Regions from separate parts of the Homo sapiens genome. Here region 1 is linked to region 2. The links come from fine-mapping of genetic effects on gene expression. A gene starts in region 2. The other region holds a variant in brackets. All regions are shown on one strand. Distances are from middle to middle. Region 1 overlaps ADAP1 (ArfGAP with dual PH domains 1). Region 2 holds the start of ADAP1 (ArfGAP with dual PH domains 1).

Region 1 (8,220 bases), 46 kb after region 2:
GCTGCCCCTCGGGGGGACGGGTGTTTGGGGCCTGGCCAGAGGTGGTAGGGCTGCCCCATTGCCCCTCTCTGGGTGGGTGTCGGCTCCTGGCCCTCCGTGGGTCCCCCGCCCCCTTCCTGGCCCTCCGTGGGACCCCCGCCCCCTTCCTGGCCCTCCGTGGGACCCCCGCCCCCTTCCTGGCCCTCCGTGGGACCCCCGCCCCCTTCCTGGCCCTCCGTGGGACCCCCGCCCCCTTCCTGGCCCTCCGTGGGACCCCCGCCCCCTTCCTGGCCCTCCGTGGGACCCCCGCCCCCTTCCTGGCCCTCCGTGGGACCCCCGCCCCCTTCCTGGCCCTCCGTGGGACCCCCGCCCCCTTCCTGGCCCTCCGTGTGATCCCCGCCCCTTTCCTGGCATGTTTGTCTTACAGGAGTCAGGGTTCGCTGTTCTTGGGCGCTGGGGCCCCTGTGTGGGGGCCTCAGGGTTTGGGGCTTGGGGAGGGGGGTACCCTGGGGCTGACTTGGCCCTGAGGGTGGCCCCTCCTGCAGCCTGGGCAGCCTGGCGGGGATGGGGGCATCCACACGTCACTCTGGGCAGGAAGGCGCTGTGGAAACTGTGAACCCGTGTGTGAGTGGGGGGGTCTCTCCAGGCCTGTCGGGGGCCGGGCCCCATGCTGGGGGCTATATGAGAATAGGAACAGGGTGAGAGCTGACCCCAGGAGCCCTCGTCCACCCTCTGGCCTCACCCCTGGGAACAGGGAAGCCTCCCTGTCCTGGCTGTTTGGAGAGAGAGCTCCACGCAGGGCGAAGCTGGGACCTGGAGCCCTCCGCAGGATACGGCCCGCTGGTTCTCAGCCTCTGCCGGCCCCAGACGCACCAACCTGGAGAAGGTGCATTAATGGGTCGGAGAGCGTGGGTGGACGGGCCAGGCAGGGAGAGACGGAGCCCTGTGCGGGCTCACAGAGGAGGCCTTCAACTCTAAGGCCTTACCCAGCAAGGAGACACTGCTCTGCCGTGGGCTCCGGTGTTTGCCTCCTGAGGGAGGGCAGGAGCCACTAGGACCCAAAGGCCGGAAGCCAGGTCCAGGCCCTTCACAGGGACGGCCGGGGTGCAGTGATCAGGGCCTCGGCCCCGTTCTCAGAGGCCACCCATCCATGGTGCACCCCTCCCTGTGGAAGGCCAGAGGCCCCATGAGATATGGGGATGCAGTTCCCACCCCAGAGGGTCCACCACCCTGTGAGCTGTCACTCAGAGCAGGGCCACGTGCTTCCCTGCCCCAGTTTACAAGACAATTAGCATATAAATCACATACGTGAGGTGTGATTTACATCTACTTTGCATATCCTATTTAGAGTGCAGTCCCAGCTCTGACAAATCCAAGACCCAGCAGTCTCGGGCCAGGCGTGGGGCTCACGCTGCAACCCCAGTATGGTGGGAGGAGAGGCAGGAGGGTCACCTGAGCTCAGAAGTTCGAGACCAGCCTGGGCAACGCAGTGAGCTCCCATCTCTACAAAAAAATACAGAACTTAGCCGGGTGTGGTGGCGTGCATCTGTGGTCCCAGCTACTCGGGAGGCCAAGGCTGGAGGATCACTTGAGCCCGGAAGGTCAAGGCTGCAGTGAGCTGTGATAGTGCCCCTGCACTCCAGCCTGGGTGGGGAAAAAAAAAAAAAAGCCTCGTAAACGGGTGTGGGCTTTATGTGAAGGCTGTTCCTGTTTCCTCGGATTTCACTTCTCTCTGAGGCACGTGATGTGCGCGCTTCACTGTGGTGGAAGAAACGGCCTGGCTGCTTTCCAGGGACTGGGGCACCTTACATCCCCACGGGCAGCGTGGAAGGGCCGGCGTCCCCGCCCACAGTCGGGCGCCTGTGTGTGCACACTGGTTTGGTTTTGCCGTTCTCGTGGGTCATGGCGATGCTGAACGTCTTTCCTGCTCTTAGCCGTGCGGTGGGCAGAAGGGCTCCTCAGAGGCGTCTGAGCAGGGCATGGGGTGTGGACTGGACCCAGCTCCCCACAGGTGGGACAAGACCTGGCACACAGTGGGACCGGCACACAGTAGGGCCTGGTGTGCAGTAGAACCCCCCCCACCCCACACCATAGGACCCGACACACAGCGGGACCAGCTCACAGCAGGGCGCGGCACGCGGTAGCTGTTTGATAAATACTGGTCGAGTCCTGCCCCAGGACTCACGAGTCCTTTAAGAGAAAATGGCCATTTCTGGCCACAGCCCACCCGGCTGTCCAGGACGCTGCCGTGTGAGGGGCTGCTCTGTGGGGAGAAGCCCCGTCTCACTGGCTGTTGCTGGTGCCGACTGGGGGCTGCAGGCCCCTGAGGTCCTGGCCCTCCCCAGCGAGGCCAAGGGGCTGGCCAGGCATGGGGAGAGCAGAGGCTCAGCCTGAGGTCTGGACTGGGCGTGGGGCGCGTCCGGGACCGTGGCCAGCGCCGTCCTGAAATACACTCCTGCGTCGTCATTGCCCCTGGAATGCGGCGTCCTGGCGCCTGCTGTCGGGAGGACCGGGGTTCCCGCTGGCGCCTGCTGTCGGGAGGACCGGGGTTCCCGCTGGCGCCTGCTGTCGGGAGGACCGGGGTTCCCGCTGGCGCCTGCTGTCGGGAGGACCGGGGTTCCCGCTGGCGCCTGCTGTCGGGAGGACCGGGGTTCCCGCTGGCGCCTGCTGTCGGGAGGTCCGGGGTTCCCGCTGGCGCCTGCTGTCGGGAGGACCGGGGTTCCCGCTGGCGCCTGCTGTCGGGAGGTCCGGGGTTCCCGCTGGCGCCTGCTGTCGGGAGGACCGGGGTTCCCGCTGGCGCCTGCTGTCGGGAGGACCGGGGTTCCCGCTGGCGTCTGGACCCCGAGAACACCGGAGCAGCTGCGCGCGTGCAGAGGGGCAGTGGCCTCCCAGACCCCGCGGCCTGCGCGCTTCCGGAGCACTGCTGTCACCTGCTGGGCGCGGCGGGCATGGCAGGGGCGCGTCCCCACCCTGTGGCCTAGGGAGCCCGGTCGCTGGAAGGGGCCCCCGCTGTGTCCTGGGCAGGGGTCTGTGGAACCGACACACTGGACCCAGCCAGCTCCACCCCCGTGGGCGAGGTGGCCCAAACTTGTCGTCTGCATTGGTGACACGGACACGCACGCCTTGGAGGCTCCCCGGGGTGCACACAAGGCCGTGAGCGGCAGAGGCCGGGAAGCGCCGCTGGGCCCGCTGCTGCGATGCCTCCCCGGGCACTTCTCGGCGTCCACCCTCAGCCACGAAGCGCCGCGTCCAAAGAGGTCCTGATGTCGGAGGCAGAGCCGTGGGGACACCCAGCTGTGCCTGGGCAGGGGCTCACTGAGTCAACAGGCGTTCTGAGCAGGCCTTACTTGGGTCTGAGGGACACTGGTGGCCTCGCTCTCACAGTGAGAAGCAGGAGAAGGGGGTTCTTCCATGGGAAGGGGGCTCCTGGCTGCTGCTGTGCGCACGGGGCTGGGGCAGCAGCCTTGTAGAGGCTTGGGGAGCGGGGAGCTCCGGGCAGTGAGGGGAGCAGGCCCCGTCTGGCACCATCCAAGACAGCCCAGGGCCCCCTCCCCGAGGGCACCAGCTGTCCCCTCCCCAACGCCAGGCGTTTTATGGCTTGCATCTCAGCAGAGAAAATAGCCCCTGGTCTCTGGTGTCGGGATGGGGCTGTCTGAGCTGGGGAGGGGATGCTGGGGAGCAGGGGGCTTTGGTGGTCAGGGCTGATGGGCGGTGTCTGCAATCTGAGCCTCTGTCTGGCCTGTTGGCTGCTGCAGGGGGCTGTTTAGCCCCGCCTGGAGCCCACAGCCCCCTCGCGTCCCTGTGGCGTAGGTCAGCAGCCCCTGCCCTCAGATGACCGGGGCTCCCAGGCCACATGGCCAGCAGGATGGGATGCTGTCCCCAAGCAAGTGCTCTCTGAAGTCACTGAGGGGTCACGGACAGGCCCACGGATGCTCAGCAGACGGCCCCACGACCCCGGGAAGGGCCCACGGACACTGGGCAGACGGCCCCGCGACCCCTGGAGGGGCCACGGATGCTCGGCAGACGGCTCCTCGGCAGACGGCCCCGCGACCTCCGGAGAGGCGGCGCCCACTGGGGATGCTTGGCAGACGGCCCCGTGATCCCAGGAGAGTCTGCACCCACTGAGGACCTGCTCGACCCTGGCCACGCAGCTGCTGCCAACGGCGGGACCTGCACGCGACCCAAGGCCTGGCAGACGGAGCCCAGGACACGGATGCTGCAAGCCACATGCTGTTGGGGCGGGACAGCCAGGGCCATAGAAGAAGCTGCATCTGAGTCCGCAGGACACAGAGTTCCAGAGCAGGAGAAAGGACGGGCAACGATAGGAACCACGGACAGG[G/A]AGCAGAAGTGGGAGCGGGGCCTGGGGGGGATGGGAACGCCCCTCTGAGTGGCCACACGTGGGTCACTGACCGCAGCTCAGTGACGTGAAGCCACACGTGTTTGTTCTCCCACAGCTCTGGCAGAGCTCCAGGACGATCCCACGGGCCCGAGACTCGGAGTGGGCAGAGCTGGTTCTGGGCTCAGGACGGGTCCTCTGGCCTCTCCCTGGTGCTCCTGGGCTCTGGGGCCCCCTCTGGCCTCAGTTTCCACGGCCACGTCCCCTTCCCTCCTGTCCTCATATCTCTGCCTCCCTCCCCTGTGATCGTCTGCCACAGCAGCGTCCTAACCACCCGTGCACGGTGTGTTTTGCCATAGAAGGTGGCGTGTCCAGGTGCTTAGGCTCCCAGGGGGATGCCCGGGCTACTTTTCTGTGGCTGTGTGTGGTGTGCGTGAGGCCACAGGCGGAGATGAGGGCTTGAGCTGGACTCCCCTCAGATGAGCTTTCCTGAAAAAAGAGGGGATGGCACCACCTGGACCCAGCAGCTGCGGACGGCTGAGGGAGGAGGGAGGAGGCCAGCCTGGTCCTCCCGGGCAGCACGAGGTTGGACCCAGCCCTGCCTCTGCCCATGGTGGCTCTGGCCATGTCCACTCAGGATGGGGAGGGTCCCTGGGGGCCAGTAAAGGACAGCTGGAGTCCCGCTCATCCAGGCCGTCCTCAGGCTGGCTTGGGCCAGGGTTGCAGCCAACAGCGCTGGTCCACTGTCATATCCCCTCACCAACCATCCACCATCACCATCTGACCCATGTCCCCCCATGTCCCCTGTCCCGTCCCCCGTGTCCCCTGTCCCCCATGTCCCCTGTCCATGTCCCCTATGTACTCTGTCCCCCATGTCCCGTCCCCGATGTCCCGTCCCCCATGTCCATGTCCCCCGTGTCCCCTGTCCATGTCCCCTTTCCCGCCCCCTTTCTCCTTTCCCTTTCTCCTTTCTCCTTTCTCCTTTCCCTTTCTCCCTTTCTCCCTTCTCCTTTCTCCTTTCTCCTTTCCCTTTCTCCTTTCCCTTTCTCCCTTTCTCCCTTCTCCTTTCTCCTTTCCCTTTCTCCTTTCTCCTTTCTCCCTTTCTCCTTTCCCTTTCTCCTTTCTCCTTTCTCCTTTCTCCTTTCCCTTTCTCCTTTCTCCTTTCTCCTTTCTCCTTTCCCTTTCTCCCTTTCTCCTTTCCCTTTCTCCTTTCTCCTTTCTCCTTTCTCCTTTCTCTTTCTCCCTTTCTCCTTTCCCTTTCTCCTTTCTCCTTTCCCTTTCTCCTTTCTCCTTTCTCCTTTCTCCTTTCCCTTTCTCCTTTCTCCCTTTCTCCTTTCTCCCTTTCTCCTTTCTCCCTTTCTCCTTTCTCCCTTTCTCCTTTCCCTTTCTCCTTTCTCCTTTCTCCTTTCTCCTTTCTCCTTTCCCTTTCTCCTTTCTCCTTTCTCCTTTCCCTTTCTCCTTTCTCCCTTTCTCCTTTCTCCCTTTCTCCTTTCTCCCTTTCTCCTTTCTCCCTTTCTCCTTTCCCTTTCTCCTTTCTCCCTTTCTCCTTTCTCCTTTCTCCTTTCCCTTTCTCCTTTCTCCTTTCCCTTTCTCCTTTCTCCTTTCTCCTTTCTCCTTTCCCTTTCTCCTTTCTCCCTTTCTCCTTTCTCCCTTTCTCCTTTCTCCCTTTCTCCTTTCTCCCTTTCTCCTTTCCCTTTCTCCTTTCTCCTTTCTCCTTTCTCCTTTCTCCCTTCTCCCTTCTCCCTTCTCCCTTCTCCCTTCTCCCTTCTCCCTTCTCCCTTCTCCCTTCTCCTTTCTCCTTTCTCCTTTCTCCTTTCTCCTTTCTCCTTTCTCCTTTCTCCCTTCTCCCTTCTCCCTTCTCCTTTCCCTTTCTCCTTTCCCTTTCTCCTTTCTCCTTTCTCCTTTCTCCTTTCTCCTTTCTCCTTTCCCTTTCTCCTTTCTCCTTTCTCCTTTCCCTTTCTCCTTTCCCTTTCTCCTTTCCCTTTCTCCTTTCTCCTTTCTCCTTTCTCCTTTCTCCTTTCTCCTTTCTCCTTTCTCCTTTCTCCTTTCTCCCTTCTCCCTTCTCCCTTCTCCCTTCTCCCTTCTCCCTTCTCCCTTCTCCCTTCTCCCTTCTCCTTTCTCCTTTCCCTTTCTCCTTTCTCCTTTCCCTTTCTCCCTTTCTCCCTTTCTCCTTTCTCCTTTCTCTTTCTCCCTTTCTCCTTTCTCCTTTCTCCTTTCTCCTTTCTCCTTTCCCTTTCCCTTTCCCTGCCCATCTTCCTATCTCCCTGTCTCCTCCATGTCCCCTCTCCCCGTCCGTCTCCCCCTGTCCGTGTCCCCCGTCCGTGTCCCCCGTGTCTTCTCCCCATGTCCCCTCTGTCCTGTCCATCGTCACTCCTTTTGTTTCCTCCCCCCCATCCACTGTCACCGACTCGTGTCCCCTTTCCCCCACAGGGTACCGTGAGGGTTTTCTCTGGAAGCGTGGCCGGGACAACGGGCAGTTTTTGAGCCGGAAGTTTGTGCTGACAGAACGAGAGGGTGCTCTGAAGTATTTCAACAGAAATGATGTGAGTCACAGACGGGGGTGGGGTGGGGGCCTGTCCCAGGGCGGCATCCCGGCCTCCCACACTGGGGCCTGTGGTGGCCGCGTCCATCCGCAGCTGCCCTCCCTGCTGCCCCCCCCGATGGGGACGCTCCAGGAGAACCGGCCTGTGTTGGGCTGAGCCTCTGTGTGCCGGACCCAGCGTCCCCCAGGGTGGGGCAGCTGAGGCTTTCCAGGAGCCTGGGCGGCCGGGCGGGGCCCCCTGAACTCAGGCCCAGCCGTGGGAGAGGGAGAACCTAGTCACTGGGCCCCTCTGGAGCCAGCCAGGACCCCAGAAAGCCCCTAGTTTTCCTGGAGGTACCCTGGGGAGACTGGACTGGGACAGGACAAACACATTGGCAAGAACAGTGGGGTCTTCACAAGGTGGCCCCAGACCCATGGGCTGATGGTCAGAAGCACCCGCCCTGAGCCGTGGCGGGCACTGGCTGGAGGTGGGCTGGTGGCTGGGGCCTGCCCCTGTGGGAGCTGCCGTGCCGTGTGGGGCCCGGGGCTGCCCCCGGGGAGGGAGGTGCAGTGTCTGATGTCAAGTGCCACCTGCACAGTGTCGTTGAGGTCCCCATCACTCCTGGGAGGGAGGTGCTGTTACCTTCTGCTTACAGACCGGGAGGCCAAGGCTCAGAGCGCTTAAGTAACTTGCCCAAAGCCACACAGCACAGCAGGTGCGCCGCCAGCACCCACAGGGTCTGCCCTTCCTGCTCCCTTGAGCTTGGACGACGGCCCCTGTGAGGTGCTTAGACCCCACCCCTTCTCAGGCCAAGGAGCCCAAGGCCGTGATGAAGATCGAGCACCTGAACGCCACCTTCCAGCCGGCCAAGATCGGCCACCCCCACGGCCTGCAGGTCACCTACCTGAAGGACAACAGCACCCGTAACATCTTCATCTACCATGAGGACGGGAAGGTGGGTGCTGGCGAGCACTCGGGCCCGGGTGGCACAGGAGGGTGGGCCCTCAGGCCCGGGTGGCGCAGGAAGGTGGGTGCTTGGACGGTACGGGAGGGTAGGCACTTGAGCTAGGCGGCATGAGAAGGCGGGAAGTCGGGCTGGGCAGCGTGGGAAGGCGGGTGCTTGGACGTGTGGGAGTGTGGGCACTGGCGCCGGGCAGCATGGGAAGACAGGTGCAGGAAGGCAGCTTCCCAGGGCCGGGCTGCCCAGGAGCCGGATCACCACGCTGTCTCTGGGGCCACCCAGCTTGGCCCTGTCAGTGGGGGCTGCCAGCTCGGGCTAGAGGATCCACCGCCCCCACAATGCCCAGAGGGGACCTCGGGGGGAACTGGGGTCCTACGGGGAGGAGATGTGGACGGTAGCCGGCTCTGGGGTGGTTTGGGTAG
Region 2 (8,374 bases):
CCCACCCCTGCGCTGAGCCTGGATGTTGAAGACCCCTGCTTGGCCTGCAGGGCGGCCTACTGAGCTCACGGCCATCGTGCCAGACGCTGTCCAAGCGCAGATAATTTGACTGAATTAGCCCCGGCCCCTGTGCGGGGTGGAGAGGGAAGTGAACCTCCACAACCTCCCCTCCCCTGAGGCAGCTCCTGGTTGAGCAAGCTCGGCTGACTGTTGGGCAAGATGGTCGCAGAGCAGGGCCCAGCCCGGCCTCAGTCCATTTGCCCCTTCCCTGGGGAGAGCCCCCTTCTGCCTGTGCTGAGAGGCTCACCCCGCAGCTGCAGGCCTGGGAGGAGCCAGCTTCCAATCAAAGTCGCCTGCTGGCCTACCACGCGCAGGCCCCGTGCTCAGGCGACGCTGGAGGAGCTCGCCCTGCTCTCGGGAGCCCCCTGCCCAGGGTCTGCTGTGTGGCCGAGTGGTCACAGGAGGCGGCTGCCTCTGGCTCTGGACTAGGGAGATGCTTGAGGAATGAGTGTCAGGGTCCCTGGTGCAGCCGTGCGGGTCAGTGACAAGGGGCAGGAGGCTCAGCAGAGCTTGTAGGCCACTGGGCATGAGCAGGAGCAGGCACGCCGCCTGTCCAGGCCCCTCGCCAGCCGCTGCTGGCCGGAACAGCCTTTGACCAGCACTGGTCTGGGTCTGGCCCACCCTGAGCTATGCTGTTACCTTCCGGATTCTTCCTGAGTCCTGGGCTCCCCTACTGCCCCGCCCAGCCCTGACCACAGCCAGTCAGGGCAGCAGGATTTCAGGACGGCTGTGCTCTCGGGTCCAGGCAGGTACTTGCGGATCTCGGCCGAGCAGCCTCCTCTTTGGAAGAATCCCCCTCAGCCCCGACATCTCTTAGATCTGAGGGGTTCACCCACCTCTGTCTCATCCTCACGCCCTCCTGCCCCCCGAGCAATGCCACAGTTCCCTTAGCGGGATGGAAGGACAGAGAAGGCAAGACACTCGCCTGCTGGAGCTGCCCCACGGAGGAGGCCCCGGAACAGCAGGCAGTAGATGGCCTTGGCTTGTGCCAGAAGCTCTGGCCTGTTGGGCACCGGCTCCCCTGAGGCCTCCCTGCTGCCTTTTCTATGCCTTGTATGATGGCCTCCCCGTCTTTGGGGACCTTGGGTAACGGCTATGTTAGGGTGTGTTGCTTTGTTATATTGTTTTATGTATATTCCAGTCCTGAGGTGTGTGGCCTCCAGCAAGGGATCGAACCTCCCCGTGCCTCAGTCTTCCCAGCTGAAAATGGGGCTTTAATAAGAAAATACATGTCGGCCGGTCGCGGTGGCTCACGCCCATAATACCAGCACTTTGGGAGGCCTAGGCAGGCGGATCACGAGGTCAGGAGATCGAGAGCATCCTGGCTAACACGGTGAAACCCCGTCTCTACTAAAAATACAAAAAAATTAGCCGGGCGTGGTGGCATGCACCTGTGTCCCAGCTGCTGGGGAGGCTGAGGCAGGAGAATGGTGTGAACCCGGGAGGCGGAGCTTGCAGTGAGCCGAGATCGCACCACTGCACTCCAGCCTGGGTGACAGAGCAAGACTCTGTCTCAAAAAAAAAAAAAAGAAAAAAGAAAATACACGTCAAGCCAGGCGTGGTGGCTCAGGCCTGTAATCCCAGCACTTTCAGAGGCTAAGGCAGGCAGATCACGTGAAGTCAGGTGTTCGAGACCAGCCTGGGCAACATGGTGAAACCCTGTCTCTACCAAAAAATAAAAATATACCTGGGCATGGTGGCACCCATTTGTGGTCCCAGCTACTCAGGAGGCTGAGGCAGGAGAATCACCTGACCCCAGGAAGCAGAGGTTGCAGTGAGCTAAGATCGTGCCACTGCACTCCAGCCTGGGCGATAGACCAAAACCCTGTCTCAAAAAAAAAAAAAAAAAAAGGAAAAAAAGAAAAGAAAAGAAAAGAAAATAGAAAATACAAGTCAGGCTATTTCTCCTAATACCTAGTGCTGAGCTGCTGCTATTAATGTTCGTCTGTCTTTATTAGGCGACATTCTCCAAGCTCATGCTGTGTGGTGGATTCCGAGCCTGGCACAGGGACCCAGAGATGAAAATGCCACCTGTCCCCACCCCAAAGCCTCCCGTCTGAGGGAGGAGAAAGACCCATGTGAACGGTTACAGGGAAAGAGCACGTGATGCCACAGGGCACAGATCCCAGAGACACAGACCAAAACGGGCTGCCGCGTTCTGCTTCAGGTAGACAGAGCTTAAGCAGCTCCATGATTCCACGTCAGCTGGAGCAGGGGGACAGGTGCCTTTGGTGGCACTCTGGTCAGTGCAGCCTCAGTGGAGGCCATTCCACATCCCATACCATTGCCCCAGCGATGCCACTTTGAGAGCAAATCCACACAAAACTCTTGCAAAGATGAGGTTGTGTAGACCATGATTCTGATGCATTCAAAACGCTCTAAATGCCCCTATGCCAGTGACTGGGTGAACAAGTCATGGTTCAGTTGAACTTTTTTTGAGTTTGTTTGTTTGGTTTTTTTTTTTTTTTTTTTTTTTTGAAACGGAGTTTCACTCTTGTTGCCCAGGCTGGAGTGCAATGGCGCAATCTCGGCTCGCTGCAACCTCTGCCTGCCAGGTTCATGCGATTCTCCTGCCTCAGCCTCCCAAGTAGCTGGGATTGCAGGCATGCGCCACCACGCCTGGCTAATTTCTTTGTATTTAGTAGAGACGGGGTTTCACCATGTTGCCCAGGCTGGTCTCAAACTCCTGAGCTCAAGTGATCCACCCGCCAGGGTCTCCCAAAGTGCTGGGATTACAGCCGTTAGCCAAAACCCTGTCTCGATAAATGAATAAATAAATGAAAGGCTACAGGCCTCAGACGTTCGTTCTGGAAGGTGCTGAGGAATTTGTTAACAGTGGTTGCCTGGAAGGCAGTGGGGAGAGGCTTTCCTTTTTCAGTCTGGTATGTTCCAGTTTGTTTTCAGCCGGGTGTACTGCATTAACCCTGCAAGAAGAAAATGGAAAGAATTTGAAAAGATGCTGGGGTGTGCAGAGGAAGGGCACGCGAGTCTGGGAAGAGGTGACATCAAAACCAGGTTTTTTGTTACCTGTCAGCCCCCATGTGAAGTCCCGGCGGGGCCCCTCAGCCTGCCTGAGTGGGAGGGGTGCCCAGAGGGTCCCATCTGTGGGTGGTGGGCGGCTGGGTGGGTCTCAGGGGGAGGCTCCGTCTGGGCCCTGTGTGGCCTCAGTGCCCTGGGACGCTGGCGTTTGTCACCTGCTGGCCGTCCCTCCCAGGCAGGGATGGTGTGAGCGCCCTGGTCCTGGTCCGTAGCACAGGACACGCACACCTGCCTTCCACGAGCACCCCCATGCCCATGGTCTTGGGGGGCTCGGCAGGTGCCCTCTGCGCCCCCCACAGTAGGTGTGCAGGCTCCGTCCCACCGCGCGCGGCGGCACGAGGGTCCCACCCAGGCCGGCCAGGTTTTGGGGCGGCCTCGCGCCCAGGCAGGTGGGACGCTGCGCGCGGATGGGGGGCGGGCGGCGGGCGATTTCCCAGCGGGTCCCCGGGGCGCGCGGGCTGGGGGCGCCGGAGCGGCCGAGGGAGGAGGCCACACGCTCGCCTGCACCGCTGGGGGCCGCCCGCGGGCCTTGCCGGCCAGAGCGCAGCGTGCGCCCCGGGCCCCGCGCCGGCACTCGCTCAGCGACCGCGGCGGAGACACGAGCGGCGGCGGCGGAGCCCAGAGGGCGGCGGGAATGCGGAACCGGCGCGCGGGCTGAGGCCGCCCGGGATGGCGCAGGGGCGGCGGCGGCGGGCGGCCTGCGCGGGGCCCTAGCGAGCCGGGCTGACGCTCCCGGCCCCGGCCCCGGCATCGGCATCGCGGGCGCATCGCGGCCATGGCCAAGGAGCGGCGCAGGGCGGTCCTGGAGCTGCTGCAGCGGCCGGGGAACGCGCGCTGCGCGGACTGCGGCGCCCCGGGTAGGTGTGGGCCGGGTGGGCGCGGGGCCGGGTGGGTCCGGGGTGGGCGCGGGGTGCCGGGCGGGTCCTGGGTGGGCCCCGGGGACCGGGCGGGGGAGCGCGGACGCCGCGGGGGTGGCGGCGCTGAACACCGGGCCGGATCGGCGCTCGGATGGGGCCCGGGCCCGGCTGCACCTGCGGGGACCCGGACGTCTTCCCGGGCCGGGCGCAGCGGGGGGGCCCCCCCCAGGACCCCCGGAAACCCCCCTGCCGCCGCCTCCCCTCCCCCGCCGGGCTGCGTGTCTGACGGTCACCGCGGACCGCCCGCCGCGTTGCGAAAGCTCGGGCTCCGCACAGAAAGAGGAAATCGGGGCTGGCTGCAGGGAGGGAACGGGCCGCCAGCCGGAGGTCTCTGCTGGGCTGTGGGGTCCGCCGGCTCCGGGGCCACCTCGCGGTGACGTCATGCCTCACGCCCTTCCCGCACCGGGGGTCCCTGGGTGTGAGCGGCGCCCCTGCCCCCGGCTCCCTGCACCTGGCTGCTCCGGGGCGGGCGCCAGGACAGGTGAGGCCTGGGAGAGGTGGGGCCGGACGCAGGTCCTGGTCCACCCGCCGCCCGCCCGTTCGTTCTCCCGGCCGGGCATCCCTGACTCGGTTCCCAGGTCTGTGGGATTTCAAGGCACTGGAGTCCAAAGGCGCGGAGTCCCTCCCTTCCAGGCCACTGGTCCTGTCATTGGCTGTGAACGGGGCCCAGTGCCCAGACCAGCCCTGCCCTGCTCGGGAGCTGTCAGCCCCAGGCCGGCTGCGCTGTGGAGAGAGGGCCCCGCCGGAGCAGTCCCGCCACCCCAGGCACACCAGGAATCTGGGGGCCAATAGTCTAAGCCCCTCGGAACAAACCTAAACTCACCGGCGGTGACTGAGGCCCCCAGGGAGGGAGCGGGGGAAGACCTTGCATTTGCCTCCAAGGCCCTGGTTCAATATGCAGCCTCTGGACACCCCGGAAAAAGGGGTGTCCCTGATTCCCTCTGGGATGGAGGGGTCTCTGCCAGCCCCAGGTCGTGGTGGCTGCTGTCCAGCTGCAGCTTGGCTGGAAAGGCCACATCAGGAGCTGGGGTGTCCCAGAGGGGAGATAGCGACAGGCTTTTCTGGAAAGACAGGCAGGACCCACGGCCTTTCCATGGTCTCCTGAGACAGGACGGCCACAGGGCCCGTGCAATGGTGCGGTGGGGGTGGCCCCCTGGGCTGGCTCACCCCAGACTCTCTCCCCACAGACCTTTATTTCCTCCTGTTCAGGAACGCTCCCCAGGAAAGCCAGTGGGAAAGGGCCTGGCCTGGGGTTGCTGTGGCCCACGGGGAGGGGAGCTGGGCTTGCCTCTGAACCTCTGCTCCCTGGCCACACAGCCTGGGAGCAGCTTCTCTGGACTCAGGGCCCCTCTCCAGCCACCCTCTGGGCCTCCCAGCCTGGCAGGAGGAAGAGGGGACTTCCTTGGCCTGCTGGGTCCTTCAGTGGTCCTCCCCTCCCAGTGGGTGCAGGTGTGCCCGGCCCACCTGCTAAGCTTCCAGCCTGGCCCACCCCAGAGCTGTTCTCTGCCGTCCCTATGCCCCACGCTGCCGGGTAGAGGGCCGCACCTCTGCCTTTTCAGAATCTGTCCATGACCTCAGTGACTTGTCTCCTCTGTCGGGTAGCGCCATGGAGGGGGGATGCTGTGAGGGGTCACTCTCATTTCACAGCCAGGGAGACTGATGCCTTGCAAAGGGAGCTGTCTTAGGGGACATGAGCCACACCCGGCCGCTCTGCTTGTCCCCGCTCCCCAGGGCTGTGGCCACAGGGTGGAACAGGCGGTGTCAGGAGGCAGGGGGCTGCCTAGCCCCCCATGACCCCATGGCACATCCTCGAGGGCTCTATGCTTCTTTGCTGATGCCAGCTGCTCTGGGGCCTCCTGTACCTGCTGTGGCCCAGCTGGGTGACAAGGAGCCACTCCAGTGTTGATGGGGGCTGGGGTGGCCGGCACGTTCTGCTGTCCTCAGAACACTGTCCTGTGCACTGGCTCACGGCTGGTGCAGACCTGGACAGCAGGACATCAGACAGTCCCAGACCACCTCTGAACGCCAGGCCTGGGGCTGCTGGGGTGGACTTGAGCAGGCCCCACCCACTGGCCGTGTGAGGGAAGCAGTCTTGGGGTCTCTGCGGCCCCCACAGAAGCTCCTTCCAAACTCTCCCCATGACCTGTCCCAATAGTGGGTTCCCCTGACCTTGAACAGGGGGCCTCGCCCGGCGGCCACCCAGAGAGCCTCTCATCACAGGCCTGGCAGGTGGGCGAGTTGGGGCGTGCCTGGACCCACTGTCCTGCAAGACCTGGGTGGGGGTCTCCATCCTGGGAGGGGGTTTGGGGGAGGGAGGGGTGCCTCCGTACATCCTTGGAGCTGCCTGCCAAATCGCAACAGAGGACAGGGACCGGGCGCGGTGGCTCACGCCTGTCATCCCAGTGCTTTGGGAGGCCGAGGCCGGAGGATCGCTTGAGGCCAGGAGTTGGAAGCTGCAGTGAGTCGTGATCACACTCCAGCCTAGGCCAGAGTGAGACCCTGTCTCAAAAAAAAGAAAAACACACATATTGTCCTCTTTGAGTCTCAGGCCATCTGATGCCCCGGAAGGACTGGGGTGTCTGAGCTCTTTTGTTCTTTTTTATTTTAAGGTCTCGCTCTGTCACCCAGGCTGGAGTGCAGTGGCACAATCTCAACTCACTGCAGCCTCTGCCTCCAGGGCTCAAGCAATCCTCCCACCTCAGCCTCCTGAGTAGCTGGGACTACAGGTCCATGCCACCATGCCCAGCTAATTTTTTTTTTTAAGACAGTCTCTCGATGTCACCCAGGCTACAGTGCAGTGGCACGATCTTTGCTCACTGCAACCTCCAACTCCCAGTTTCAGGAATTTGGCCGGCATGGGTGAGGGTGGGAAGAAGGCTGCTGAGTGTGGGCGGGGGCTGGGCAGACTCCCTTCACTCCCCAGGGCAGCGGCCCAACTAGGTTGGATATTTTTTTTTTTTTTTGAGACGGAGTCTCGCTCTGTCGCCCAGGCTGGACTGCAGTGGTGCGATCTCGGCTCACTGCAAGCTCCCCCTCCCAGGTTCACACCATTCTCCTGCCTCAGCCTCCCGAGTAGCTGGGACTACAGGCACCCGCCACCACGCCCGGCTAATTTTTGTATTTTTAGTAGAGATGGGGTTTCACCATGTTAGCCAGGATGGTCTCCGTCTCCTGACCTCGTGATCCACCCGCCTCGGCCTCCCAAAGTGCTGGGATTCCAGGCATGAGCCACCGCGCCTGGCCGGATTTTTTAAAAATAATAATTTACCTTCTCATCGTTTCGAGTGCACAGTTCCAGGGCCTTGAGCACGTTCACTCACCGTGCCACCGCCACCACCATCATCTCCAGAACCTCCTCATCTTCCCAAACTGAAGCTCTGTCCCCATTCAACAAGGGCTCCAGATTTCCTCTCCCCAGTCCGGGGCACCCACCCTTCTACTTTCTGTTCTTTTCTTGTTTTTTTTTTTTTTTTTTTTTTGAGACGGAGTCTTGCTCTGTTCCCAAGGCTGGAATGCAGTGGCGCCATTTCAGCTCACTGCAACCTCTGCCTCCTGGGTTCAAACGATTCTCCTGCCTCAGTCCCCTGAGTAGCTGGGATTACAGGCGCCTGCCACCACGCCCGGCTAATTTTTGTATTTTTGGTAGAGACAGGGTTTCGCCATGTTGGCCAGGCTGGTCTTGAACTCCTGACCTCAGGTCATCCTCCCAACTTGGCCTCCCAAATGGCTGGGATTACAGGCATGAGCCACCGTGCCTGGCCTCAACTTTCTGTCTCTATGAATCTTATGACTCCAGGGACCTTGTAGAAGTGAAACCATGCGGTATTCATTTTTTTTTTTTTTTTTTTTTGAGGCAGAGTCTCATTCTGTCGCCCAGGCTGGAGTGCAGTGGCACCTTCTCAGCTCACTGCAAGCTCCGCCTCCCAGGCTCATGCCATTCTCCTGCCTCAGCCTCCCGAGTAGCTGGGACTACAGGTGCACGCTGCCATGCCCGGCTAAGTTTTCTGTATTTTTAGTAGAGATGGGGTTTCACCACGTTAGCCAGGACGGTCTCGATCTCCTGACCTTGTGATCCGCCTGCCTCGGCCTCCCGAAGTGCTGGGATTACAGGTGTGAGCCACCATGCCCGGCTGGTATTCATTCTTTTGTGACTGGCCAGTTTCACTCAGTCTAACGTCTCCAGGTTCACAGATGCTGTGGCGAGTGCTGGGATTTCCCTGCATGTGAAGACAGGATCATACCCTGTGTGGATGAACCACATTGCGTGTGCCCGTTTGTCTGCAGGCGGACACTGGGCTGCTCCCACCTCTGGGCCATTGTGAATCGTGCTGTGTGAGCACGAGGGTGCAGATGTCTCT

The links.
Region 1: its variant is fine-mapped to the expression of ADAP1 in whole blood (INTERVAL, PIP above 0.99). The same link has a PIP of 0.9 or more in breast, subcutaneous fat, sun-exposed skin, tibial nerve and visceral fat.

The regions. Positions count from the first base shown.
Region 1 is chr7:903,698-911,917 of GRCh38, reverse strand. ADAP1 (ArfGAP with dual PH domains 1) reads left to right here. Exons shown (of 11, transcript NM_006869.4): 5 at 6,746-6,858; 6 at 7,646-7,792. Among named protein-coding and RNA genes, the nearest start is that of GET4, 31 kb to the right of the region's middle. RefSeq lists a silencer at 2,784-3,003 and an enhancer at 3,518-4,216. The variant G/A (reference allele first, on the strand shown) is at 4,319.
Region 2 is chr7:949,978-958,351 of GRCh38, reverse strand. It overlaps ADAP1 (ArfGAP with dual PH domains 1), which reads left to right and starts at 3,672. Exons shown (of 11, transcript NM_006869.4): 1 at 3,672-3,956. The coding sequence starts at 3,875. It overlaps LOC124901569 (a long non-coding RNA gene), which reads right to left and starts at 3,498. Exons shown (of 2, transcript XR_007060178.1): 1 at 3,088-3,498; 2 at 2,862-2,984. RefSeq lists silencers at 65-124, 3,366-3,465, 3,321-3,476, 3,496-3,985, 4,276-4,485 and enhancers at 2,779-3,388, 4,611-5,222, 8,152-8,374.